Homo sapiens: one gene and its partners. The protein of the gene in region 6 interacts with the protein of the main gene of each other region in a pairwise test. Each region holds a gene or a part of one and is shown on either strand. Other genes may lie near its edges.

Evidence for each region.
Region 1: the proteins of NBPF19 (region 6) and DGKQ interact in a two-hybrid assay, tested with the Homo sapiens proteins (one large-scale study listed by BioGRID).
Region 2: the proteins of NBPF19 (region 6) and CTNNBIP1 interact in a two-hybrid assay, tested with the Homo sapiens proteins (one large-scale study listed by BioGRID).
Region 3: the proteins of NBPF19 (region 6) and CRY2 interact in a two-hybrid assay, tested with the Homo sapiens proteins (one large-scale study listed by BioGRID).
Region 4: the proteins of NBPF19 (region 6) and TAPBPL interact in a two-hybrid assay, tested with the Homo sapiens proteins (one large-scale study listed by BioGRID).
Region 5: the proteins of NBPF19 (region 6) and PTK7 interact in a two-hybrid assay, tested with the Homo sapiens proteins (one large-scale study listed by BioGRID).
Region 7: the proteins of NBPF19 (region 6) and BCAM interact in a two-hybrid assay, tested with the Homo sapiens proteins (one large-scale study listed by BioGRID).

What each region holds. Positions count from the first base shown.
Region 1 is NC_000004.12:970,770-974,989, forward strand, and holds the start of DGKQ (diacylglycerol kinase theta), read right to left. Parts: upstream 2,801-4,220; 5' UTR 2,714-2,800; coding exon 2,443-2,713; intron 304-2,442; coding exon 224-303; intron 1-223. UniProt on the Homo sapiens protein: Diacylglycerol kinase that converts diacylglycerol/DAG into phosphatidic acid/phosphatidate/PA and regulates the respective levels of these two bioactive lipids.
Region 2 is NC_000001.11:9,903,770-9,907,269, forward strand, and holds part of CTNNBIP1 (beta-catenin-interacting protein 1), read right to left. Parts: intron 1-3,500. UniProt on the Homo sapiens protein: Prevents the interaction between CTNNB1 and TCF family members, and acts as a negative regulator of the Wnt signaling pathway.
Region 3 is NC_000011.10:45,878,475-45,881,109, reverse strand, and holds part of CRY2 (cryptochrome-2), read right to left. Parts: intron 197-2,635; 3' UTR 1-196. UniProt on the Homo sapiens protein: Transcriptional repressor which forms a core component of the circadian clock.
Region 4 is NC_000012.12:6,458,542-6,462,041, reverse strand, and holds part of TAPBPL (tapasin-related protein isoform 1 precursor), read right to left. Parts: intron 3,398-3,500; coding exon 3,095-3,397; intron 1,188-3,094; coding exon 1,104-1,187; intron 919-1,103; exon of another isoform or gene 652-918; intron 9-651; coding exon 1-8. UniProt on the Homo sapiens protein: Component of the antigen processing and presentation pathway, which binds to MHC class I coupled with beta2-microglobulin/B2M. Association between TAPBPR and MHC class I occurs in the absence of a functional peptide-loading complex (PLC).
Region 5 is NC_000006.12:43,135,314-43,138,813, forward strand, and holds part of PTK7 (inactive tyrosine-protein kinase 7 isoform a precursor), read left to right. Parts: intron 1-3,500. UniProt on the Homo sapiens protein: Inactive tyrosine kinase involved in Wnt signaling pathway. Component of both the non-canonical (also known as the Wnt/planar cell polarity signaling) and the canonical Wnt signaling pathway.
Region 6 is NC_000001.11:149,499,045-149,502,544, reverse strand, and holds part of NBPF19 (NBPF family member NBPF19), read right to left. Parts: intron 3,473-3,500; coding exon 3,300-3,472; intron 2,591-3,299; coding exon 2,539-2,590; intron 1,889-2,538; coding exon 1,716-1,888; intron 1,002-1,715; coding exon 893-1,001; intron 260-892; coding exon 87-259; intron 1-86.
Region 7 is NC_000019.10:44,812,103-44,815,602, reverse strand, and holds part of BCAM (basal cell adhesion molecule isoform 1 precursor), read right to left. Parts: intron 3,441-3,500; coding exon 3,212-3,440; intron 3,126-3,211; coding exon 3,055-3,125; intron 2,354-3,054; coding exon 2,257-2,353; intron 2,166-2,256; coding exon 1,983-2,165; intron 1,452-1,982; coding exon 1,315-1,451; intron 1,000-1,314; coding exon 843-999; intron 1-842. UniProt on the Homo sapiens protein: Transmembrane glycoprotein that functions as both a receptor and an adhesion molecule playing a crucial role in cell adhesion, motility, migration and invasion.

The DNA of each region.
Region 1 (4,220 bases), on a different chromosome or scaffold from region 6:
AGGATCTTGCTATTTGCGACCTCGGGGACTGGCTTTTATCACCATCATTCCCTGCAGATCCATGCAGGGTGCTCAGCCTTTTAATCCCGAGCAGTATCTGCCCTTTGCCTTTCAACTGCAGGTATCACTAACGTCTGACATGAAGGTTTTCAGTGCCTCGACCCTACGAGAGCTGACACATCCCCCAGCCTCTTGCAGGTGCAACACCCAGCCCCACACTCACCCGGACCAGGCTGGGTGCCACACTCGTGCACGGGATCCTCACGTGCTTCAGGCACTTCTCATGAGACATGAAATTGCAGACTGTGGGAATGAGCACTGTGTGAGTTGGCCCCTGTCCTACCCAATGGCTGTCCTACCCAGGAAGTTAGAGGCCCCAGGGCAATGACTGCCATACCCACCATGCTGCACCAGGGGCCCTGTGGTCCTCGAGTTCCCCCACCACCCTGCCCACTCATTGGAGAGAGCCTGCAGCCCAGGAGCCCAGGAGCAAGAACCTGGGTGGTCCTGACCATCCTGGAGGACAATGAGTGTATCCTCTCATCCAGAGAGCAGTCCCTCCCCTTCGCACGTAGGCCCAGCACTCCTCCTGCCTCTGCAGTTGGGCCTCTCAAGGGGCAGCCCTGGGCTCACCAGGTTCGCCAGGTGGCAGGGGCTTCTCGGCCTTCGGCAGATTGGCTTTACCAAGGACATCTGTGTCTCACTCCCCCGAAACTACGCATACCCCTAATTGTCCCTGCTACGTGCTGTGCACCGTGCCTGAGACCGAGAGCCACCCAAGGCAGGTGAGGGCTCTGGGAGGCAGGAGCCGCTGGGGAGTGGACAGCCCCAAGCCTCCCAAGGAGCTCTGGCTGTGTGCATAGGACCCAGGGAGCACCTGAGCCGGCGGGGTGCTCAGGAGGGCATAAGAGGAGCAAGCGCCACACCCCAGCAGTAAAACAGACAGGAGGGTGGGGCCGGGGCAGAAGGGAGGGCAGGAACCCTGGGCTGGGGCAAAGGCTGCGGGGGCTGGGAGTGGGCAGGGCACCCAGTGACACAACTGCCAAGACAGCCCCGGGTGAAGGTTGTGCCACGGAGCCCCAGGCAGTCCAGCTGGGACAGGGAGCTCTTCCAGAAGGCCCCGCTGGTGCCGCCCTTCACCTGCTGCAGCCCTAGCCACCCCAGTCTCCAGATGGGACCGGGAGAAGCTTCTCCTGGCAGCTTAAGAGAAAAGCTCTGGAAGCAGGCCAGGGTCCACCGAGAGAAGGGGGGACAGGCAGCACCCAGGTCCCTCCTCTGCCATGGAGACAGGGCCTGCTCACCCCACGCCCCACGCTTGGGTCTCCTGGCGGGGAGGGTGCCCTCCTTCCCATACCGCTGCTGGCCCCTCTTCCACGGGTGCTGCCCAGGAGGGCCCTTTTGCCCCCTCCGAAGGGGGAGGGGACCCGGAGTCTGGCCTCAAGTCGGGAGCTGCCTCAGCCACACATGCACACTCCCCACCTCTGGGGAAGCCCCTGGCATCCCCAGGCAGCAGGCATGGCTGTGCCATGCTCTGACGTGACAAAGAAGCTGGCGGGCCAGGCCACCTTGTGCAGCCCTGGGGGTCAGAACAACCATGCCGTTTCCACCACAGACGACATCCCCGTGTGAGGGGACAGTCTCCTCTGCGGACCCTGACCTGAGTGGACCCCTATCCCCAGAGAAAGGCCTGAGGCTAAGGATAGCCCCTCCCACCTCAGCGTCCCTGGCCAGGACACAGTAAGTGTCAAACGTCCAGAACTCCGGTCCTGTCCCTCGCTCCCTCCAGAGGCTGGGCTGTGGTCCCCCTGTCCCTCGCTCCCTCCAGAGGCTGGGCTGTGGTCCCCCTGTCCCTCGCTCCCTCCAGAGGCTGGGCTGTAGTCCCCGGGGCCCGCCTGCTTGCCGCGGGGGAAGATGAGAGCCAGCCCTGGGAGCACCCGGGCCCAGAACAGGGAAGGGCTGTCCTCACCCCAGCAAGAGCTGGGCAGCTGGGTGGAGCAGGGCTGGGACACGCGCACCGGGACGGCAGGGCCCGGCCTGGCTCTCCAGGAGGCTGGGACTCTGGGCCACAGCATGAGAAGGGCTAGGGCCAGGGGCCCAGGCCAGCCCTGCTTAGCCACACCTGCTGCCCCAGCCACTGGGAGAGGAAGCCGGCCATGGGGACCCCAGCTGAGGTCCCGCTCGCATCAGGCACAGCCCCTGGGTCGCAGCCATCGCGCGGCACTATGGAGATGCTGTCCGCACCTCCCAGGTGAGGAAGCCCGCAGCCTGGAGCGGCCCCACGGCGCACAGGCCCCGGCCGCCCCACGAAGGCACGTCCCGCGAGCAGGGCTGGGACCCCGCCCTCCACTCCCCCGAAAGCGCCGGTGCCACCTCCGCTCAGGCTCCCGCCCACGGGGCAGAGGCAGGGCTGCAGCCGGGTAGGCATCGGGCCCGGGCGCTCACCGTCGCACAGGAAGCCGGCCAGCCCCCAGATGAAGTCGGAGCAGAGGTGGCAGAAGGTGGGCTTGGTGAGCGTCACCTTCCGGAAGCTGTGTCCCGGCGCGGCAGCGGGGCCCGGGGCTCTGACGCCCGCCCGCTCGGGTCCCGGCCCCGGCCCCGGCCCCGGGCGCGCGCGGCCTCCTGAGCCCAGCACGGGGCTGCAGGCCGGGCTGCCGGGGCGCGGGGAGCCGCCGCCCAGCCAGGCGCGGGCCCCGGGCTCGGCCGCCGCCGCCATTCCCGGCCCGAGCGGCCCGAGCCCCTTTAGGTCCGCGCCGGGGGTACAGGAGCCGCCGCTCCACGGCCCGGTACACTGCTTCCGACTGCGCCTGCCCCACTGCGCAGGCGCGGGCCGCGGGGCGGGGCGGGGCGCTGCTGGTGGGCGGATCTGGGGGCTGGCGGGGCGGGGCCTGCTAAGGGTCGCAGCCGTGCCCCGTCGATGAGCGGGGCTGGGGGCGGGCCCTGTGATCGGGCGGGGCGGGGCCTGCTAAGGGGCGGGGCCTGTGCGCGGAGGCCGCTCGCGAACCAGCCGTGGGGAACTGGTCCACGTGGGCTCGGTTTGACCGCAGCCGGGCCAGACTTCTCCGGACGCCGCACGCGCGGCGTTGTACCTGCGGGGTCCCGGCCCGCGGCTGCGCAGACAGGCGCCTCCCACGCGAGACGCGGATGCTGTCCGAGGCCCCCGGCCGCGCAGGACGCCCCCGGCGAGGGGCAGCGCTGCGGGCCTCCCACAGTGGGTCCCGGAAAGCGGGGTTTGCGGTGCTTGGGCGGCTCCGTCCGTGGGGTCTTCGCACGCGCAGACTTGGCCCTGCCCGAGGCCCAGGACCCCCGGCGCCCGACCGCTGTCCTCACTGCAACGGGGGACCCGCCTGCGGCCCGGGGCTGTCCGCTCGCGACCCCCACCCGGGCCTCACGCCGAGCGCCCAGCTCTCCTGCCTCGTGCGCGCCACGGGTCTTGTTCAGGTGGCGCTGGTGTCCTTTGAGAGCCGCGTCCACGCGGGTCACCCCTCCCCGCCGCTGGCAGCAGTCTGGGTCCTTGCCCCCGTGGGCCTAACTGTGGATAGGAGTCTGCGAAGCGGGGGACCCCACCCCGGGCCACCGAGCGGGGACCTGCAGAGGGCAGGGCTCCAGGGCCATCGCAGCAGGCGGTCTCAGGGGGCAGGAAGAGCAGGGAAGGGCCTGTGGGGAGACGCCTGAAAGGGGCTGGGGGCTGTGGACTCTGGAGGGAAGGAGCCGGGAGACCTGTCCTAGGGGCTGTGCTGGTGAGGGCACCCAGACCACAGGGGATTCCAGGAATGGAGGGTGAGCCGGGGACCCAGTCTGAGGAGGGAGGAGCAGGCCCCTGAGATGGTGAGGGGGGAGACGCAGTCCTCAACCAGGGAGGATTCTGTTTGTCCAGAAGCTGCTGGTTGAGCTGCTGGGGTAGGACCCTGGGTGGACCCCAGGGTAAAGGGAATGCAGCCAAAGCTTCAGGGAACCTTCACCCTCCAGGAGCTGCGCTCTGGGACAGACAGCACCCTGAAGAATGAGGGCTGCCTGGGGGCAGCAGGAAGGCGTCCAGGCGGAAAGCCGGAGCAGAGGCCCTGTGGCAGGGTGCTCCGCAGAAATCCTTTCCTGATGCCCACCTATGCTGGGAGGCCCGGAGTCACCACCCCTGCATTCCCTGTCTCCTGTGCCAGACCCCACCCCGAGCCTGCCCTCAGCCAGGCCCCAAGACCCCCTGTGCCTGGGCCCTGGGAGAGCTA
Region 2 (3,500 bases), about 140 Mb from region 6:
GGAGCAGCCAGCAAGTTAACTCTGACTACCCTAAGAGTATCACCTACATTGGGCTTAAGGGAGGCTTTTCTTTCTTCTCTATGGTTTCTGCTGAGAATCAGTATATGACATGGTGCTCAGAGCTCTGCCTGGGAGTCATACTGCCTGGTTTGAATCTGATTCTGTTCCCAACTAGCTCGACCTCAAACACTTTACTTAACTTTTCTAGGCCTCAGCTTCTTAACATACAAAATGGTAATAATGGTACGTATCTCAGAAACCGTGAGGATGAAATGAGACAGTGTATGTAAAATGCCACTATCATTCACTTTCTCATTTTCTAAATGAGCACGTATCATTCTCATAGTAAGAAAACCAGCTACATGAGAAAAAGCTTGCACCCACTCTGCGTTTAGTTTTTACAAATCTACAGATGACATATGACTAGCAGGCATTTCAGATTCTGCCAATAAAATGCCCCAGGACTCTGAAAGTGACCTGCAACACAAGCGTCCTATTTGATTCCCACTAACTTGTGTTGGTCTCTCCAGGTTAGCAGAGCAAGTGGCATCGTGGACAACTGATGGGAGGACCAAAAAGGGATCTGAAAAGCTGGCCAATGGCACCCAGTCTAAAGAGTCCCACTCTGGATTCCTGGTGAGTGGAGCCCCTGGGTTTGAAATGCCATTTCTCTCAGCGCTCTGCTGAGTTACCCAACTCCGCTCAGCCCAGATGAAAGACAACCAATGCTTTCTAGATACCACTGTGTTCCTGATCAAGTAATCAAACAGGAGATGGTCAGAGTTGCCAGTGTGGCCCAACCCTCTATAGAGGGGCCTGGTGATGGCAGGGACTGGCAGAGAAGTAGGGATAGGGTGGGGGTAGGAAAGCTGTCCAGTCAATCTTGGTATACTCTCAACAAAGAAACAGTGATATACATGTATGTGTGTCGCTGATGCATTTATGAAGAATGGCTGCAAAACTCCAAGACTACTTAAGAGTCACTGCCAAGATAAGAAGCTTTAACTCACACAGAGAGGAGCAGAGAACACAGACATTCCACTGTAGACGACAAGCTGCTAAGCACTGGCAACATTCATTCATTCAACTCAAGAAATGTTTGCTGATGACTTAGGGACTCGGAAAAAAGGAAGCTCAATAAAATGCAGGACACACAGACACACATACCAGGACTGTCATCAACCTAGCTGATGCTTCCCTCATCTTCAGGGGACCAGGCCAGAGAAATAAGGAACCTGATGGGAAGAAACTCAATACTCTGGCTGGCCTCAAAAACCTCCCAGGACAAGGAGAGCCTATTCCAGCCGCTCTTCGTAATGTCCTGTTCTGTCTTTTAGTGTGGACTCAAATATTCTCCTAGACCCCAGGAAAAGTTCCCATGCAGTGACTTCCCACTGTTCAGAATTCAAAAGTAAAATCCAAACTCCTAACCACAGCCACAAATTTGGCCCCTGCTGATTCATCACTAACCACACTCCAGCCCCTCTGGGTTGATCATTCTTGCAGTCCTCTCTGTCCACAAAGCTGTCCCCCTAGATCACCATCCATGTCTCCCAAAAGCCACCTTCTCAGAGCTAAAGTTATGACCCTAACCCTCGTCCCATCCACTTTCTATCTTCTGTTTTATTTTCCCCCGTATCTCTTTCACCACCCTACATTCTTTTTTTTTTTGAGACAGAGTCTTGCTTAGTCGCCCAGGCTGGAGGGCAGTGGCACGATCTTGGCTCACTGCAAGCTCCGCCTCCCGGGTTCACGCCATTCTCCTGCCTCAGCCTCCTGAGTAGCTGGGACTACAGGCGCCCGCCCCCATGCCCGGCTAATTTTTTTTTTTTTTGTATTTTTAGTAGAGACGGGGTTTCACCATGTTACCCAGGATGGTCTCGATCTCCTGACCTGGTGATCCACCCGCCTCGGCCTCCCAAAGTGCTGGGATTACAAGCGTGAACCACCGCGCCCGGCCTCACCACCCTACATTCTTTTGTTGACTCGTTTATTTGTTTACTATCTGTCTCTCCCACTAGAAGATAAACTTCATAAGAGCATGCCTCTTAAAGACCGTGTTCTTGGCTACGTCCATAGCATCCGCAACAGTGCCTAGCACATAGGTGCTCAATCAGTCATTCAATTCAACAAATATTTTCAGAGTACTACAAAGTTTAGGTACTATATTATAAGAGTAGACAAAAAGAGACAAAAATCTCTGCTCTCAAAGAGCTTAAATGCTGGTGGGAGCTAAGAAGCAGATAAAAAAAGGCGAAATAATGGTTACTTCAATTTAGCATATACCAAGTGCTAGGTGGTCTTCTGAGTATCTACTAGGTATTACTTAATTTAATCCTCCCAACAACTCCATGAGGAAAGTATTACTATTGTGCATATGGGGAAACTGAGACACAGAGAGATTAAGTTACCTGCTGAAGATCATGCAGCTCCTGAAGGCAGAACCAAGATCCAAACCTGATGGTCTTGGTACAAAGTCCATGGTCTAATTAAGAGCTACACTTCAGGCCAGGCACGGTGGCTCACGCCTGTAATCCCAACACTTTAGGAGGCCGAGGTGGGTGGATCGCCTGAGGTCAGGAGTTCGAGACCAGCCTGACCAACATGGTGAAACCCCATCTCTACTAAAAATACAAAAATTAGCCAGACGTGGTGGCACACGCCTGTAATCCCAGTTACTTGGGAGGCTGAGGCAGGAGAATCGTTTGAACCCAGGAGGCAGAGGGTTGCAGTGAGCCAAGATTGTGCTATTGCACTCCAGCCTGGGCAACAAGAGCAAAACTCCATCTAAAAAAAAAAATAATAATAAAGAGCTACACTTCATATTTGCTGAGTGTCAAGTGACTACTTGGTCAGCACCAGCAGCAGCTGTTCCCCACAGGCAAGGATGGAGAGAGCAGATCCATCAAGGAAGGGCTGCCCTGTCATGTGAGCCCTGTGAACAAGACACTGCTGGGTTTACACTATATTGCACCCTGGATGAGGAGTCTACAAGAAGCATGGTCTGATGAAAAGACAGGGGCAGGGGCAGGAGTCTTGGTGCGATGAGATGCCCAGGCAAGTCAACCAATATTTGAAGAGTTTACATTTTGTGCAGGGCGCTGATTCAGACACTGTGGACGATGCAAAGACAAACCCAGTAGAGATTCTGGCCTCAGAAAGCTTAGAGTCACATGTGTACACATGGAGATGAAATGGGGTAGAAACTAGCAGGCATCATAAGAAAATGCATAAACTGCTATAAGATTTCAAAAGAGCCAGCTTCTAGGGGACACAGACGCTTAACCATAAAAGAAGGGGCTGGCCTGTGTAACCCCCAAGGTCCTCTCATTCTGACATGTTCTGACAGCACAGATTTGGAGCAGCATGGAGATAAGTTTTATTCTGTTTTTTGGGGAGTTTTTTTGTTTTTTGTTTTTGAGACAGAGTCTTCCTCCGTCGCCCAGGCTGGAGTGCAGTGGCACGATCTTGGCTCACTGCAACCTCCACCTCCCTGGTTC
Region 3 (2,635 bases), on a different chromosome or scaffold from region 6:
ACATTCAGAATCATGAGTGTCAACAGATGCATGCACACACAAACAGGCACACCACTCCCTCCTCTGCACACGCGCACACACACACACATGCTCGCTCTATCTCTGCCCGGTGATCAGCTTCTCTGCAGGTTGTACTCTGCTGCTGCGGTGGCTGCTTGGGCACCCAGGCTTTGCTCACGGAGCAAGGGCTCTGCAGCTGGAAGAGAAAAACAAGTGCAAAAGGAGCATTCAGGAGGCTGCTCAGTTGCCCAGGGACACAAGCTCCTCTGGCTGCTTCTCTGGGGACATTCAGAGCGGGACCTGAGAAGAGCTGAAAGAGTGAGCTGAAAGGGCCACGGTACCTGGGGACAGGTTGTTGCTGGGATGCCACTGGGATGAGGGAATACTGCCCCTCTGAGGTGCTGATGCAGGACAAGCTCCCCACTGCAGGCCCTCCACCCAGGGCTGCGGACAGCAGAGGAGGAGGAGGACAAGGCTATGTGAGAGTCACGTGAAGCCCTGGGGGATACTTGCTCAGATATGACAAGGGCAGCTTCTGAATCAAGGCACAGCAGCTGCTGCCAGAGATGGAGAATCAGGAAAAAATGGCTGGAAGAGAAGCCCGCTGGGACCAGTAATTTTGAAGAGTAAGGCAATGACTGAGTTTACAATCAGCAGGTGAGCACATTTCCACATATAGATGAAAGCACCCTGGCACAGTGCTGGAAGATTGTGGGGGCAGGAGGGAGAGAGGAGACACAAGGATGACTCATTTTAAAGATTTATGACATCCGGAATCTGGGGCAAAGAGAAGAAACAGCTTCATCCCTGATAATAAAGGAAGGACAGAGTGCGCCTGTCACAATGCTGAGTTGTCTGTTTAAATAGGTTTAGTGTGTCTGGGAGTCTACAGAGACACACAGCGTCCCATTAAAAGTTTGTGCAGTTTAAATGTGGGTGAGGTAGACAATAAGTAGGCTTACTAAGCCTGCCGTGGGTCAGGTACTATACACTTGTGCTGTGGCTGAATTCTGTCCCCCACAAAATTCTTATGTTGAAGTCCTAACCCCCAGTACCCCAGAAGGTGACTGTATTTGGAGACAGGGTCTTTAAAGAGGTAATTAAGTTAAATGAGGTCATTAGTGTGGGCCCTAATCCAATATGACTGGTGTCCTTAAAGGAAGAGGAAATTTAGACCCAGACAGTACAGAGGGAAGACCATGTGAAGACATAGGGAGAAGATGGCTGTTTATAAGCCACAGAGAGGAGCCTCAGAAGAAAAGAAGCCAACCCTGGCAACATTTTGATCTTAGACTTCCAGCCTCCAGAACAGTGAGAGGACACATTTCTCTTGATTAAGCCACCCAGTCTGTGGTACTTTGTCATGGCAGCCTGAGCAGACTAACACAACTTGAGATCCCAGTAACCTTGAAGCTTGCCCTCCATTTTTGTAGATGAGAAAACAGAAACCAGAGAGGAGAAGGAACTTGCCCAGGACAACAGCATTCATAAGTGGCAGAGCCAAAAAAGGAAATCCACATCTGTCTGATTCTCAAATCTGTCTTTTTACTAGCAAGTAATCTCTATACGATAGTATTGCTCATTAAGACTTTTAGAGAAGAAGACTTTTAGAAGAAATTCAACATGGCAGCATGAAGACTAATATCCAACAGACATACATGTGAATTAAGCTGTTATTAGAAAAGGGAAAATGCTCTTAAAGTCAAAGACATTGGAGACAAGGATTCAGTATCATGCGATGCTTTTAAGGCCGCATGGTAAATCTGAAGCAGATTTTATCTGATGATAATTTATCTGGAAGCTGGGCAAAATAAAGAGCAGACATAAGAGTGGGTGCCTGTATAGGTCAGTACTGTGTGTCTTATTCTTTTTTTTTTTTTGAGACAGAGTTTCACTCTTAGTGCCCAGGCTGGAGTGCAATGGAGTGATCTTGGCTCACTGCAACTTCTGCCTCCCAGGTTCAAGCGATTCTCCTGCCTCAGCCTCCTGAGTAGCTGGGATTACAGGCATGTGCCACCACACCTGGCTAATTTTGTATTTTTAGTAGAGATGGGGTTTCTCCATGTTGGTCAGGCTGGTCTCTAACTCCTGACCTCAGGTGATCCACCCACTTCAGCCTCCCAAAGTGCTGGGATTACAGGAGTGAGCCACCGAGCCCGACTTTTTTTTTTTTTTTTTTTTTTTTTTTTAATAGATGGAGTCTTGTTCTGTTGCCCAGGCTAGAGTGCAGTGGCGCGATCTTGGCTCACTGCAACTTCTGCCTCCTGGGTTCAAGCAATTCTCCTGCCTTGGCCTCCCAAGTGGCTGGGATTACAGACACCTGCCACCACAACTAATTTTTGTACTTTTAGTAGAGATGGGGTTTCACCATGTTGCCCAGGCTGGTCTTGAACTCCTGATCTCAGGTGATCCGCCCCCCTCAGCCTCCCAAAGTGCTGGGATTACAGGCGTAAGCCACCGCACCTGGCTGTGTGTTTTATTCTTTAAAATGTGTGTTATTTTCAATAATTTTTCCCTTTAAGCTTGTACTATAATAACCTAGCCATTTTTTTGCTACAAATGTATGTATTATTAAGGTGTACATGTATTTATTGAAATGTGCTGATTCTGAGTATATACTCCACACACAGGGCTC
Region 4 (3,500 bases), on a different chromosome or scaffold from region 6:
TGTAGGTGCTGGTAAGAGGAAGTGAAGACAGGAAGTTGCGTGGGCATCTCACACTGGCAAACAAGCACAGGTTCCCTCAGGCCTCTTCCATCTGCCTCCTGTGCTCCTTCCTAGGTCCTTGGCCTGCTTGTCCTGTCCCAGGGGATGTGCCCAGATAAGGCTGTCAGTGAACACCCCCTTACCCCCTTTTCCCCATCATCCTCACGTACAGTTTTGGTATGCTGAGTTCCACCGTATTGATTAGGCACATTTTAGAAACGAATAAAAAGGAGAAGTCTCTCCTTGCAGCTGAGGGAGTGAGGCATTTGCAGGTATCCTGAACCTCCCAGCAGTCACCCGAGGGAGCAGAACCCTAATTGCAGCTGAGGTGCAACTGAGATGGAGCCACGGGGGTGCCTCTGAGGGCCTTTGTTTCATACTTAAACACTTTGCAAGTTGGAGCCGCTAGGCTTGGTGACAGGGCTCAGTTGGGACCAGTGTGGAGAAAGACAGGAAAGTGGAAAAGCTTGGTCGCAGCAGACACAAGGGCCTTTTATTTTGACAGAGCTGAGTTTGGGAGGGGTAGCCCAGCCCCAACCCATGCCTCATTGTCCCTCACTTGTTCCTTCTCCATTTCCTCCAGCTTTGTTTTCCTACCGTCACACCACCAACCTGGCTCTTTGGTCTTATCCTCCATCTGGACATTCTGCCTTCTTCTTGTCCCCTCACTTCTTCCTGTTCTCTGCCTTGGTGCATGAGCCCAGGGTGCACAGTGAAGGAAGGCAGAGGCCTCTGCAGAGCCAGGCCCAGTGCCCCATGAGCTGGTGCCACCTTCATGTATTTTTAGCTCTGTGACTTGACTTAGAGTCCTTCTGGGAGCACGTGACTACTCTTTCTTTCTACTCTGAGGCAGGAGAGTGACAGACTTTAGTGAGGTAGCTAGGAGAAAACGAGGGAACACGACTGGTTTCATTTTCATTTAGGGCAAACTCAAAAGCAGGAGGCTGTGATGGGTGGGTGGCTGGAGCTTGGGGCATCTGGGCTTCCACCCTGGTCTGGGCGGGGGGGTGGTTAGAGTGGGTGAGGTGGGCCAGGGCCAGAGCCAAGGGCACCCAGGCTCTTACCTTGCCGTCTCTGAAGCCCCAGGAACATCAGTGCAAGAAGGAAGAGACTGCTGGCAAAGATGACTCCCAAGGCTGTTCTCCGCTCTGTAGGTGAGAGCAACGTGGGCGGGGATCATCGTGCGCAGGAATCATGAGCTGAGCCCTCACCTGCAGTGTCCACCCCAGGGAGGAGGAGCTAAGGATTGTGTGTGTGAGTCCCTGGTTGAGGAGCCTGGAACAAGGCACTCAGCAGCATTTGTTCTTATTCAAGGTTGCTGGATACTTGTGAGTTACTCCACACAGAATTCTCTACCTCTTCCCACCTAAGGACAAGGTTTTAAAAATTGCTTTGCAAGTGAGATTTAGGTGGGTTTATTTGTTAGCACTTAACTTGCCTGGACACAGTGGCTCATGCCTGTAATCCCAGAACTTTGGGAGGCTGAGGTAGGTGGATCACCTGAGGTCAGGAGTTCGAGACCAGCCTGGGCAACATGGTGAAACCCTGTCTGTACAAAAAATACAAAAAATTAACTGGGCATGTTGGTGTGCGCCTGTGGTCCCAGGTACTTGGGAGGCTGAGGTGGGAGAATCACTTGAGCCTGGGAGGCAGAGTTTGCAGTGAGCTGAGATCGTGCCACTGCACTCCAGCCTGGGCGACAGAGTGAGACCCTATCTCAAAACAAAACAAAATAAAACAAAGCAAAACAAAAAACCACCAGTTAACTGGGATTTTGTAAATAGTTGGGGAATGATGTGAGCTGAAGTGAAACCTCAGTTTTGGGGAAGTTCACAGTCTAATGAGCAACCAAATAATGCCCAGTGCTCCTGGATGTTTCCACTTCAAGTTGCGGGTTCTTTCCTGTCCCTTTCCTGCTTAAAACCTCTCGACAGGCAGGGTGCGGTGGCTCATATCTGTAATCCCAGCACTTTGGGAAGCCGAGGCGGACAGATCACCTGAGGTCAGGAGTTTGAGACCAGCCTGGCCATCATGGCGAAACCCCATCTCTACTAAAAACGCAAAATTAGCCAGGCGTGGTGGTGCGCGCCTGTAATCCCAGCTACTTGGGAGGCTGAGGCAAGAGGATGGCTTGAACCCAGGATATGGAGGTTGCAGTGAGCTGAGATCATACCACTGCACTCCAGCCTGGGGAACAGAGCAAGATTCTGTATCGAAAAAAAGTAAAATAAAATAAAATAAATAAATAAATAAATAAATAAATAAATAAATAAATAAAACCTTTCAACAGCATGCTATGGCTCTCAGGAAGTTCCAGCTTGAAGGCCCAGTGAGATCTACAGGGTTTAATTAAGCCCGTAAGGGGAATCCGGTTGCCTGTTTTTCACATTCTCTCTTTACCATTGATTGATAGGTGACCTTGGGCAAATTCATTGACATCTGCAAGTGCCAGTTTACTCACCTGTAAAATGGGAGTCATGATCCATGAAATCATACATTTAAGTGCTTTCTACACTGCTTGATTCATGTAAATGCTCAATAAATAGAATTACCTCCGAAGCTTCAGAGCCACTTTCCCTTTTTCCCATATACCCTAAGCTCTAGCTGTGCTGAATTACTTGCAATTCTCCAAATTCTCTTTAGGCTGTTTTATGATTTGGCTTTCATATATGCTATTGTTTCTATCTTGAGTGTTCCCTTCCCTCTAAGCTAGTTAACTTGGCTCAAATGCCATCTTCTCTGTCTACTTAGTCTTGTCTCTATTACTGGACTAAGCTCCTGGAGGGCATGATCAGGAATTATTCATCTGTGATCTCCAGCCTTAAGCACATTGCCTGACACCCTGGAGGCTGGAGTATAATGAAGTCTCAGGGGATGTGTGGTAGAAGCTGTGGCAGCTGCCGCCTTGGGAAAATAGTCAGGAGCAGAGGCAGGAGCATGAAGCCAGGGCTGCGAACAAAGTGGATGGGCAGCAGAACAAGGCCATAGATGAGCTGGGGCAGGAGAGCCATGAGCCCTAGTGTGGAGGTGGGGAAAAGGAGGACACTCCCAGTACCTGGTGGGACAACCTGGGTGCTGGCCCCAAGGGGCTCCTCCAGAGAGATGTGTGTGACCTGGCAGGTGTAAGTGGCACCTGCAGAGCCAGGTTCTGCGGTGAGAGAGGAGGAGATGCTGTAGGTGCCTGCCACGCTTTGCCTGAGGCTGGAGAAGGAGGCACCAGAGACTTGGGCTGGGGATCCACCCAGCTCCTCTCGGGTCCACGTCACCACCACATCCAGAGGGTAATAGCCAGCAATGTCGCAGATGAGGGTGGGCAGCAGAGCTTCGTTTGCCAAGCTCAGTCGTACTTTAGGGGAAGCTGGAGAAAGAATGAGGAATAAGATTACACATGGATCTAACTGGGGACAGCGGAGGAGCCTGAAGCCTTTTCTTCCTGCCAAGATGAGAGTAGATTGTGGAGG
Region 5 (3,500 bases), on a different chromosome or scaffold from region 6:
TTTGTCGAGCACCTTGTGCTAGCTCTTCCCAGTACTGGATGCAACTGTGAACAAAGCAGGCAGAAGCCCCTCTCCTTGTGGAGTTCATATTCTAACAGCGGGGACAAAGCCAGTAAGAAAAACTATCAAATGAACAAATATAATTTTAGGTGCCAGTAGAACAAGGGAGAACAATGAAATAGGGCAAGTGATAGAGAAAGGGCAGGGCCAGTGAGAGTTTAGGGAAGACTTCTGTAAAAGGTGCATTGGAGTTGGTATTTAAATTAAGAAGGGAGCCAGCCATGTGATAGGCCCTGAGATGGAAATGGGCTTGTATGTTGGAGGAACAGTAGTCGCCTGTGTGGCTTGAGTTGAATAAACGATGGTGAGAGGGGTTGAAGTTGCCTGAGAGGTGGAAACTAAATCCCATAGGCCTTGTAAAAGCATAGTAAGGACTTTGGCTTCGGCATCAGTTATCCATTGCTACATAGCAAACCACTTCAAAACGTGGTGGCACTTTGGGAGGCCGAGGCAGGTGGATCACTTGAGGTCAGGAGTTTGAGACCAGCCTGGCCAACATGGTGAAACCCCATCTCTACTAAAAATACAAAAATGGCTGGGTGCAGTGGCTCACGCCTTGTAATCCCAGCACTTTGGGAGGCCGAGGCAGGTGGATCACGAGGTCAGGAATTCGAGACCAGCCTGACCAACGTGCTGAAACCCCGTCTCTACTAAAAATACAAAAATTAGCCAGGTGTGGTGGCATGTGCCTGTAATCCCAGCTACTCAGGAGGCGGAGGTTGCAGTGAGCCGAGATTGCGCCACTGCACTCCAGCCTGGGCGACAGAGCGAGACTCTATCTCAAAATAAAATAAAAAATACAAAAAAAAAAATTATCCAGGCATGGTGGCACATGCCTGTAATCCCAGCTACTTGGGAGGCTGAGGCAGGAGAATCGCTTGAACCTGGGAGGTGGAGGTTGCAGTGAACAGAGATCGCGCCACTGCACTCCAGCCTGGGTGACAGAGCAAGACTCCAACTCAAAAAAAAAAAAAACCAAACCGTAGTGACTTGAAACAACAAACAACAGCCGTTGACATGCTTATGATTCTGTGGACAGGTTCAGGTGGGCCCGCTCGTCTACCTGGTGTGCTATCGGCTGGGTGTACACGTTTGCAGTCAGCTGATGGGTGAGCTGGCCTGGTCCCTGGCGGCCACACTCACCTGTCTGGCAGTTGACTGGGGCTATTGACCAGGGTGCCTTAGTTCTCCTCCACATGGCATCTCCAGTAGGCTAGCCAGGCTTCCTCACCTGGCAGCTGGGTTCCGAGAGGGCAAAAGTGGAAGCTGCAGTACTACCACTGTGTTCTGTTGGACAAGGGAAGTCACAGGCCACTCAGATTCCAGGGACTAGAAAAATACACCATGACCCAGTTCAGTGGCTCACGCTGCAATCCCAGTATTTTAGGAGGCCAAGGTGGGAGGACTGCTTGAGCCTAGGAGTTTGAGACCAGCCTGGACCACATGGCCAGACCCCGTCTCTACTAAAAATAAAAAAAAAATTAGCTGGGCCTGGTGGTACGCGCCTGTGGTCCTAGCCACTTTGGAGGCTGAGGTGAGAGGGTTGCTTGAGCCTGGGACGCTGAGGCTGCAGTAAGCCATAGTGGCGTGACTGCACTCCAGCCTAGGTAACAGGATGAGACCCTGTCTCACACACACAAAAAGAAATAAACTCTACCTCTTGATGGGAAAGTGTCAACATCACATTGAAAAGAGTTGAAAGGGATGGGAGGATTGTTTATAACTATCATTGCAAGCAGCCTACCACACCACATTGGATGGGAAGGTCTTGCAGGGTTTTGAGTGGAAGACTGATTTTTCAGAAGATCGCTCTGGCTGTTTTGAGACTAGAATGTTAGGGCCAAGAGTATAAACAAGGAGACCCATACTAAGTAGATGACTATAATAGTCTAGGGGAGATACTGAAGGAGCTTGAACAGAGGCAGTAGCGGTGGGGGTGAGAGGTGGTCAAATTCAGGATATATTTAGGAGCCCCAGTAGATAGGGTTTGGTAGAACGAGTGTGATGGGGGTGGGGTATAGAGAGAAGACAAGGCTAGCTTTTTGGCTTTCTTAACTGACTAGATAGTTCTATTGACTGAGATAGGGAAAATGAGTGAGCAGGTTTTGGGGGAAGTCAGGTGTTCTCTTTAGCACACGTAAAGTTTGAGATGCCTGTTGGATATCCAGTTGGAAATGCCAGTAGGCAATTGGATTTATAGGAATCAGGATGTAGTTTTGGGAACCAACCATTCATGTTGTATTGAAGGTTGTGGACTGGATGAGTGAGTGTTGCTAAAACAGAACAGATTTCTGAGGACTGCGCCTTGGCATTTTATGGTGTAATAAGAAGAACAAGGGTTTCAGAGTCATATAGACCAGAGTTTTAAATTCTGTCACTATTAGGTATTAGCAAATCACCATTACTTCTTCTTTTTTTATTATTGTTATTATTATTTTTTATCTTTTATTTGAGATGGAGTCTCACTCTTTCGCCCAGGCTGGAGTGCAGTGGCGTGATCTCGGCTCACTGCAACCTCCACCTCCCAGGTTCAAGCGATTCTTGTGCCTCAGCCTCCCCAGTAGCTGGGATTACAGGTGCCCGCCACCACACCCGGCCAATGTTTTTGTATTTTTAGTAGAGACGGGGTTTCACTATGTTGGCCAGACTGGTTTTGAACTCCTGACCTCAAATGATCTGCCCGCCTTTGCCTCTTAAAGTGCTGGGATTACAGGCGTGAGCCACTGTGCCTGGCCACCATTACTTCTTTGAACATCTGTTTTCTTAGCTGTAAAGTGCGTGTTGGAATACATACCTTGGGGGGTTTGTTTTTTTTGTTTTTTTAGAGATGGGGGTTTCACTCTGTTGCCTAGGCTAGAGTGCAGTGTCTTACAGCAGCCCTCCCGCCTCGGCCTCCCAAAGTGCTGGGATTACAGGTGTGAGCCACCACTCCCTGCCTACCATAGGGGCTTATAACTAAGATAATGTTAACTAAGTTAATTAATGTGACAGTTAACTAAGATAATGTTCAAAAGGTGCTGGTGGCCGGGCGTGGTGGCTCATGCCTGTAATCTTAGCACTTGGGGAGGCTTGAAGCCAGGAGTTTGAGACCAGCCTGGGCAACATAGCAAGACCCCATCACTACAGAAAATAAAAAAATTAGCCAAGTATTGTGGTGCATGCCTGTGGTCCCAGCTATTTGGGAGGCTGAGGTGGGAAAAATCACTTGAGCCTATGAGTTCGAGACTGTAGTGAGCCATAATTGTGTCACTCTACTCCAGCCTGGGTGACAGAGTGAGAACCTGTCTTAAAAGAAAAAAAATTTTAAAAAAGGTGCTGGCACCTGGGTCTTCCGTAAAGGGAAACTCCTGCCATCTGAGGAGCATGGGGCTTCTGAACTCAGGGCCTAGAATGGTAGTAGGATTTCTTGGAGATGGATCCTTTAGTTTTGGAGACCTGTG
Region 6 (3,500 bases):
GCTCAGTAAGGGCCACTTGCAGTAGGAATATGACCCTAACCAGAAGACTCAGTGGATCCTTATCACCTTCATAGAAAGGTACTCACCATCCATGTCAACAGCCAAGCCAACACACTGTTGCTCCAATATGTAAAAGGCACTTCTGTAGGGCTGGCATGAGTCAGTCAGTTCAAGACAACCTGAAGGAGTTGAATAACATCTATCCAGTGAGTCCTGCAAGACTTCAGGCCCTTTCTCATCCAGCAGCTCCCTGCTGAGCCTGGAAAAGTGGGAAAAAGTAAAGAATAAGCCAGGGGGAATCAGAAACCGCACAGCCCCAGCTAGATTTCATGGCTAACGTTAAGGAAGAGTTTGAAAAGAAAAAGGACAGATCCATTAATGAGGTAACAAATTATTGCCTTTATGTTGGGATAGAACAGGGCCAGGTAGAAAACAATGAAAGAGAAAGACAGAGAGAGAGAGAGAGAGAGACAGAGACAGAGAGAGAGACAGAGACAGAGACAGAGAGAAAGTGACCTAGTGAATTGGCCAGGTGACATACTGGTAAGGGAGTAAAAGGACACTCTGAGTTAGTGCCCTCATGACACACAGCAAACTGTGATCATGAAAAGAGTGAGCTCAATAGTTTTCCATAAAATATGCTCAAAATTCGATGCAGTGGCCATGAGAGTACAGCTTTTGAAGTATGGTCAACCTATGGTACGTTAGGAAATGATAAGGGGAGGAAGAAATGGAAACCTAAACATCTACTGCAATGAAAACCAACAGCAATGACAGTAGGAGTAATTCAGCCTTCGTTGAAAACATGACATCAAACACACTCTGGTTTCCCTGAATCTGTTGCCTCCAGGTGTTAACACAGAATTAAGCATCCACAATTGCTGAAAGTCACCTGGGGCATGGTGGGTTTTGATCTTCTTCCCCTTCTTTTCTTCCCCTTCTTCTTTCCTTCTTTGATCTTCTTCCCCTTCTTTTCTTCCCCTTCCCCTTCTTTTCAATTTCTGCAATAAATTCAGACATGGACAGACACATTAAGCTGATTCCCCTACACACATAACAATCCACTGTCTAATCCTCACACAGGGACCTCAGGCTCCTCAGCATAAGAATAGGACACTGTGAGAGATATATTTCAGGAGGCCTGAAGGCTGGTCATGATAGAAATTCCTCGGTTTTTCTCCCAGAAACTGTGGGTAAAATGTCCCTATTCTAGTAGATCGTTATCCCAATATCATTTGTCCCAAGTTTGTGCAAACAGTTATGCCATATTTTTCCAATCAATTTAAAGCAAATACCCTCAAATGATTTCTAGGAGAAAAACTGCAATATTTAGCCCTGTCTCATCAAATACTCAGATTGTTCATGGTTGTGAGGACTTTAGACACTGAAATTAGAGTGAAAAAGGAAATCTACAAACCCTTGAGTCAAAATCATAGTTCTCTGAATTTGTCACATCTGCCCAGGTCCAATGTCATGAGAATAGGATCAGGGCGCCACAGGTATGGCCTGAGACTAGGAAGAGAGTCTTGCTCACTGACCCATCCCTTGTCTGGGCTTCCAGGTAGAACTAGAGTTTCATTCAACCTACATGTGCCTATAGGTCCTCACTGCGGCAACGACATCTCTCAGCTCAGTAATGGCCACTTGGAGCAGGAATATGATCTTTATATGGAAGACTCAGTGGATGCTTATCACCTTCATAGAAAGGTACTCACCTCCCACGTCAAGAGAAAAGCCAACATGTTTTTCCTCCAATGCATAAAAGGAACTTCCATAGGGCTGGCAGGAGTCAGGCTGTTCAAGACAACTGGAAGGAGTTGAATAACATCTATCCAGTGAGTCCTGCAAGACTTCAGGCTCTACTACCTCCACCAGCTCCCTGCTGAGCCTGGAAAAGGAGGAAAAAGTAAAGAATAAGCCAGGGGAAATCACACACAACAGAGCCCCAACTAGGTTTCATGGGTAGCATAGGGAAGTGGTTAAGAAAGTAAAAGGATAGATCCATTAATGAGGTAACAAATTATTGCCTTCATGTTGGGACAGAACAGGGCCAAATGGAAAAGAATGAAAGAGAAAGACAGATGGACACACACACACACACACACACACGCACACACACACACACACACACACAGAGAGAGAGAGAGAGAACGAGCTCAGTGAATTGTCCAGGTGACACACTGATGAGGGAGTAACAGGACACTCTGAGTTAGTGCCCTCAGGACACACAGCATACAGTGATCATGAAAAGACTGTGCTCAATAATTTTCCATAAAATGTGCTCAAGTTTCCATGCAGTCGCCATGAGAATACAGTTTTTGAAGTCTGGTCCACCTACAGTAGGTTAGTAAATGATAAGGGGAGGAAGAAATGGAAACCTAAATATCTACTGCAATGAAAACCAACAGCAATGTTAGTAGGAATAATTCAGGCTTGCTTGAAAAGATGTAATCGATAATGTCAGCCCGCTCTGTTTTCCCTGAACCAGGAGTCTCCAGATGTCAACACAGAAGTAGCTGTTCACAATTGCTCAGTTACCTGGGGCATGGTGGGTCTTGGTCTTCTTCCTCTTCTTGGTCCTTTTTAATTCCTGCAATACATTCAGACAGGGACAGACAAAATAAGCCAATTCACCTACACCCATAACAGTCCACTGTCTAATCCCCACACAGGGATCTCAGGCTCCTCAGCATGAGAACAGGACAATGTGAGAGATATACTTCAGGAGGCCTGAAAGCTGGTCATGATATTCTTTGGTTTGCATCTCAGAACCAAGGGTGAAATATCCCCATTCTGGTAGATCGTTATCCCAAAATCACTTATCCCAAGTTTGTGCAAACAGTTATGCCTTATTGTTCCCATCAGTTCAAAGAAAATGCCCCAGATGATTTCTAGGAGGAAAACTGCAGTATTCAGCCCTGTCTCATCAAATGCCCAGCTCGTTCATGGATGCAAGAATTTTAGACACTGAAATTAGAATGAAGGAGGAAATCTACAAACCCTTGAGTCCAAATCATAGTTCTGTGAATTTTTTGCATCTGCCTGGGTCCAATGTGCTGAGAGCGGGCTCAGGTTGCCACAGGCATGGCTGGAGACTAGGAATAGAGCCTTGCTCACTGACCCATTTCATGTCTAGGCTTCCAACTGAGACTACAGTTTCATTACAACCTATATGCGCCCACAGGTCCTGCCTGCGGCAATGACATCTCTCGGGTCAGTAAGGGCCACTTGGAACAGGAATATCACCCCTATCTGGAAGACCAGGTGGAGGCTTATCACCTTCATAGTAAGGTACTCACTGTCCACGTCAAGAGCCAAGCCAAGGTACTGTTCCTCCAATGAGTAAACAGCACTGCTGTAGGGCTGGCCTAAGTCAGGCAGTTCAAGATAACCTGAAGGAATCGAATAACATCTATCCAGTGAGTCCTGCAAGACTTCAGGCTCTTTCTCATCCAGCAGCTCCCTGCTGAGCCTGGAAAAGTAGGAAAAAGTAAAGAATA
Region 7 (3,500 bases), on a different chromosome or scaffold from region 6:
ATCCAAGTCAGAATCTGCTTCTCAGGAAAGCAGACTGCAACACCTGCCACCTAAAATAATCCCCTCTCCTGCTCTCTCTCACTGGTGATATCACCTGTAGATACACTACTGTTACGAAAGGGCTTAGTTAGCATTTACCATCTGTCTCCCCTACTGAAATAACAGGGGTGGTCTGTCTTGTTCACAGATGTGTCCCCAGCATCTGGCGCAGGGTCTACCCCAGGAAGGGATATGTAAGAAGTGCCAAGGGAGAATACAGCCTTTCCCCAGGGCCTGGATGCGAATGAACTGAAAATCATTCTTAGAAGCCTGGGATTCAAGGGATTGGTGAGAAATAGACGGTAGGAAGGATGGGCAGTGAAGGTAGGAACCAGAGGAGCCTGGGGGGTGATGAGGAGATAGCCTTGACTGGGGAGAAGGATCAGCTAGCTAATGGTGGAACTGGCCAGGTGGACCTTGAAGGCCATGGTGAGACACCTGGGCTTCTCCCAAGGGTACTGGGGAGCCATGGCAGATTCTGAGCAGAGGAGGGTCAGGTCTGTGCTATGGAAAGAGCTCTCGACAAGATGCGGTGGCTCACTCCTGTAATCCCAGCACTTTGGGAGAGCAAGGCAGGAGGATCGCATGAGGAGTTCGAGACCAGCCTGGGCAACGTAGCCAGGTCCTGTCTCTGGGAAAAAAAAAAAAAAAAAAACAACCAAAAAAACCCCCAAGAAATGCAGAGAAAGGGTTGAAGGCAGAGTGTTTGGGATGACAGAGCAACTTCAGGGCTGTAGGGAGGAGGGCGCAGAGGCACTGATGCCAGGGCCCCTCCTGCCCGCCCGTTCACCCAGGGCTCTCACAGGCCACGCGCAGCTCCAGCGTCTTGGAGAGCTGCACGTCATCTGCCGCGTCGTAATCCTCCACTCTGCAGCCATAGGTCCCGCTCTGGCCCCGGGTCACTCCCTCCAGGGTCAAGTTCCCCTCGAGATTCACATTCAGCACTTCCTCCTGCTCATCCTGGGAGACGGGGGACGAGGAACCAGGCTCAGAAGCCACCCCGGTTCAGCGGGCTCATGCTAGGTCAGAAGCCACCAGGTTAGTGTCATGCTAAGCCAGAATCAGGGGTCAGGGGCCATCAAGTCAGGTGGCATGCTAAGTCCTGACTCTCTCAAATCAGGGGTCAGAGGTCCTTTTAGTTCGTGGGCCACCAGATCAGGTGGCTGCCTAAGCCATGGGGACTCCCAGGTCCCACATTAGAAGTTATGCAGGTTAGCAGGTCACAGAGGTCAGGGGCTGGGGGGTGGATCCCAGAGGGACCCTTGGGTGGGTCACCTGAAGGCGGAAAAGCGTATACTCCGGGCTGGGGCTGCCGTCCCCCCGGCAGAGCAGCTGGACAGTGTCACCCTCGCGTACCCAGCCTGCTGGGGTGGACGGGCTGCCCACCCAGAACTGCACGTGCTCCGTGGGATCTAAGGGAAGGGCAGGGAGATGGGAATTGTGATCAGGGGAAGGGTCAAGGCTAGAGGACAGGCGAGAGGTCAGCCCTGCATCCCAGGTGAGGGCTATGGCGGGTCAAAGGTTACGGGTCATAGGTTTCAAGCCTCAGGTTCACAATTATTCTGAGTGCCAGAGTTCAGAGGTTGAAATAAACTAAGAGTATAGGTCAAGAGTCAGAGGTCCGTATGGGCGATGGGTCAGTGTGAGACTTGGAGCCAGATGTCATGGGGGGACCCAATTCAGTGTGAGAAGGTGGAAAGCACCATTTAGTCATAAACTTCATGGGGTCCAGGGTGCTAAGTGGAGGTCGGAGGTCAGAGGTCAGGATGGGGCTTGTGCGACCAATTGAGGTCAGAGGTCAGTGGCCAGCACTAGCACATTTTTTTTTAGCATGAAGTAGGGAGGCAGAGGGTCAGAGGGGAGTGTGAAGCCCCCGGGTGGAGGGTCAGGCCTCATGAGGTGTGGAGCCTGAGGTCAGAGGTCAAAGGCCAGCACAGACTCACAGTGCAGGGTGAGGTGGAAGGTGGGGCTGTCCAGGCGGCCGTGGCGGCCCTCGGGCAGGCTGTAGTGGGCGGCGCAGTGGAAGCTGGCGTCTCGGTCATCCTTGCGGAGCCGCAGGTAGAGGGTGCTGGTGAGGGAGAGCAGGCCCGAGGCCTCCCGGACCGTGCGGCTGGTCATGTAGCCCTCTGGGAGAGATCGGGGGAGGTGGCAGTCAGCCAGGCCATAGCCCCGCCACCCACCCCAGCCCACGTCCCGCCGCGCTCCTGCGCTGCTCACCTGGGTTCATCTCTACGGGCACCTCCAGGCGCTGCCCGTTGCGATACCACGTGATCTTGGGGGCCGGGTTCCCGTTCCGGCTGTTGCAGGTGGCGATCTGAGGCAGACACGGGCATGGCCCTGGGCTTGGAGCTGGGACTCTGAAGTCGGGGCTCCTCTCTCAGGAGTTCTCCCCACTCAGACTCATGAGCCGGGCTCCTAACTCCCGACTCTCCCAGGACCCAGGAGTCCAAATTCCTAGTCCCCGACTCAGACTAAAGAGTCCAGGCCTCCAGCACCATCCTCCAGGGACCAAGGATTCTGGGTCCCCCAGCTCTCTCCTTCCTAGGACACAGGAGTCTTCCCCCTCTGCCCTTCCTTTCTTTTTTCTTTTCTTCTTCTTTTTTTTTTTTTTTTTGAGACGGAGTATTGCTCTGTGGCCCAGGCTGGAGTGCAGTGGTGTGATCTTAGCTCACTGTAGCCTCTGCCTTCTGGGTTCGAGTGATTCTCCTGTCTCAGCCTCCCGAGCAGCTGGGATTACAGTTGCACACCAACACACCCAGCTAATTTTTGTATCTTTAGTAGAGACGGGGTTTCATTATGTTGGCCAGGCTGGTCTGGAACTCCTGACCTCAGGTGATCCGCCTGCCTCTGCCTCCCAAAATGCTGGGATTACAGGCATGAGCCACCTCGCCTGGCCTTACCCCTCCTCCTTTATTACCCAGGGGTCCCCAGCCCCTCCTCCCTCAGACCCAGGAGTCCAGGGCCCTGTCCCCTCCTCCTCCAGGACCCTGGGGCCAAGGTCCACCCGAGAGGTACCTCCTGGGCAGAGTCCTCCATCACAGACAGTGTCCCTTTGTTGGGGGAGACCTCAGTGGCCTCTGGCTTTGCTGTGAAAAAGACGTTCACGTCAGGAGCCCCTGCCCTGCGCCCCTCCCTGCCTGCCTCCCTTCGGGGGATGCCCGAGGACACTTACCAAACACGTTGAGCCGCGCAGTGGCCTCAGCAGTGCCTGCCGCCCCTGCCCTCACCACGCACACGTAGTCTCGCTCGTCGCCCACCTGGGCCTCAGCCAGCACCAGGCGCCCCTGGGAGTCCAGCTGGTATGGGGGACTGCGGCCCCGGGTGTCGTGCATTGTGACCTGGAGCTCAGAGCCCTGCATCTCAGCCGAGGCTAGGCGGGGGCGAGCTCCCGAGCGGTCGGTCTGTGGGCGCGGGGCAGGCTCTCAGCTCCGGGTGTCCCAGCGCTCCTCAGTCTCTCTCTC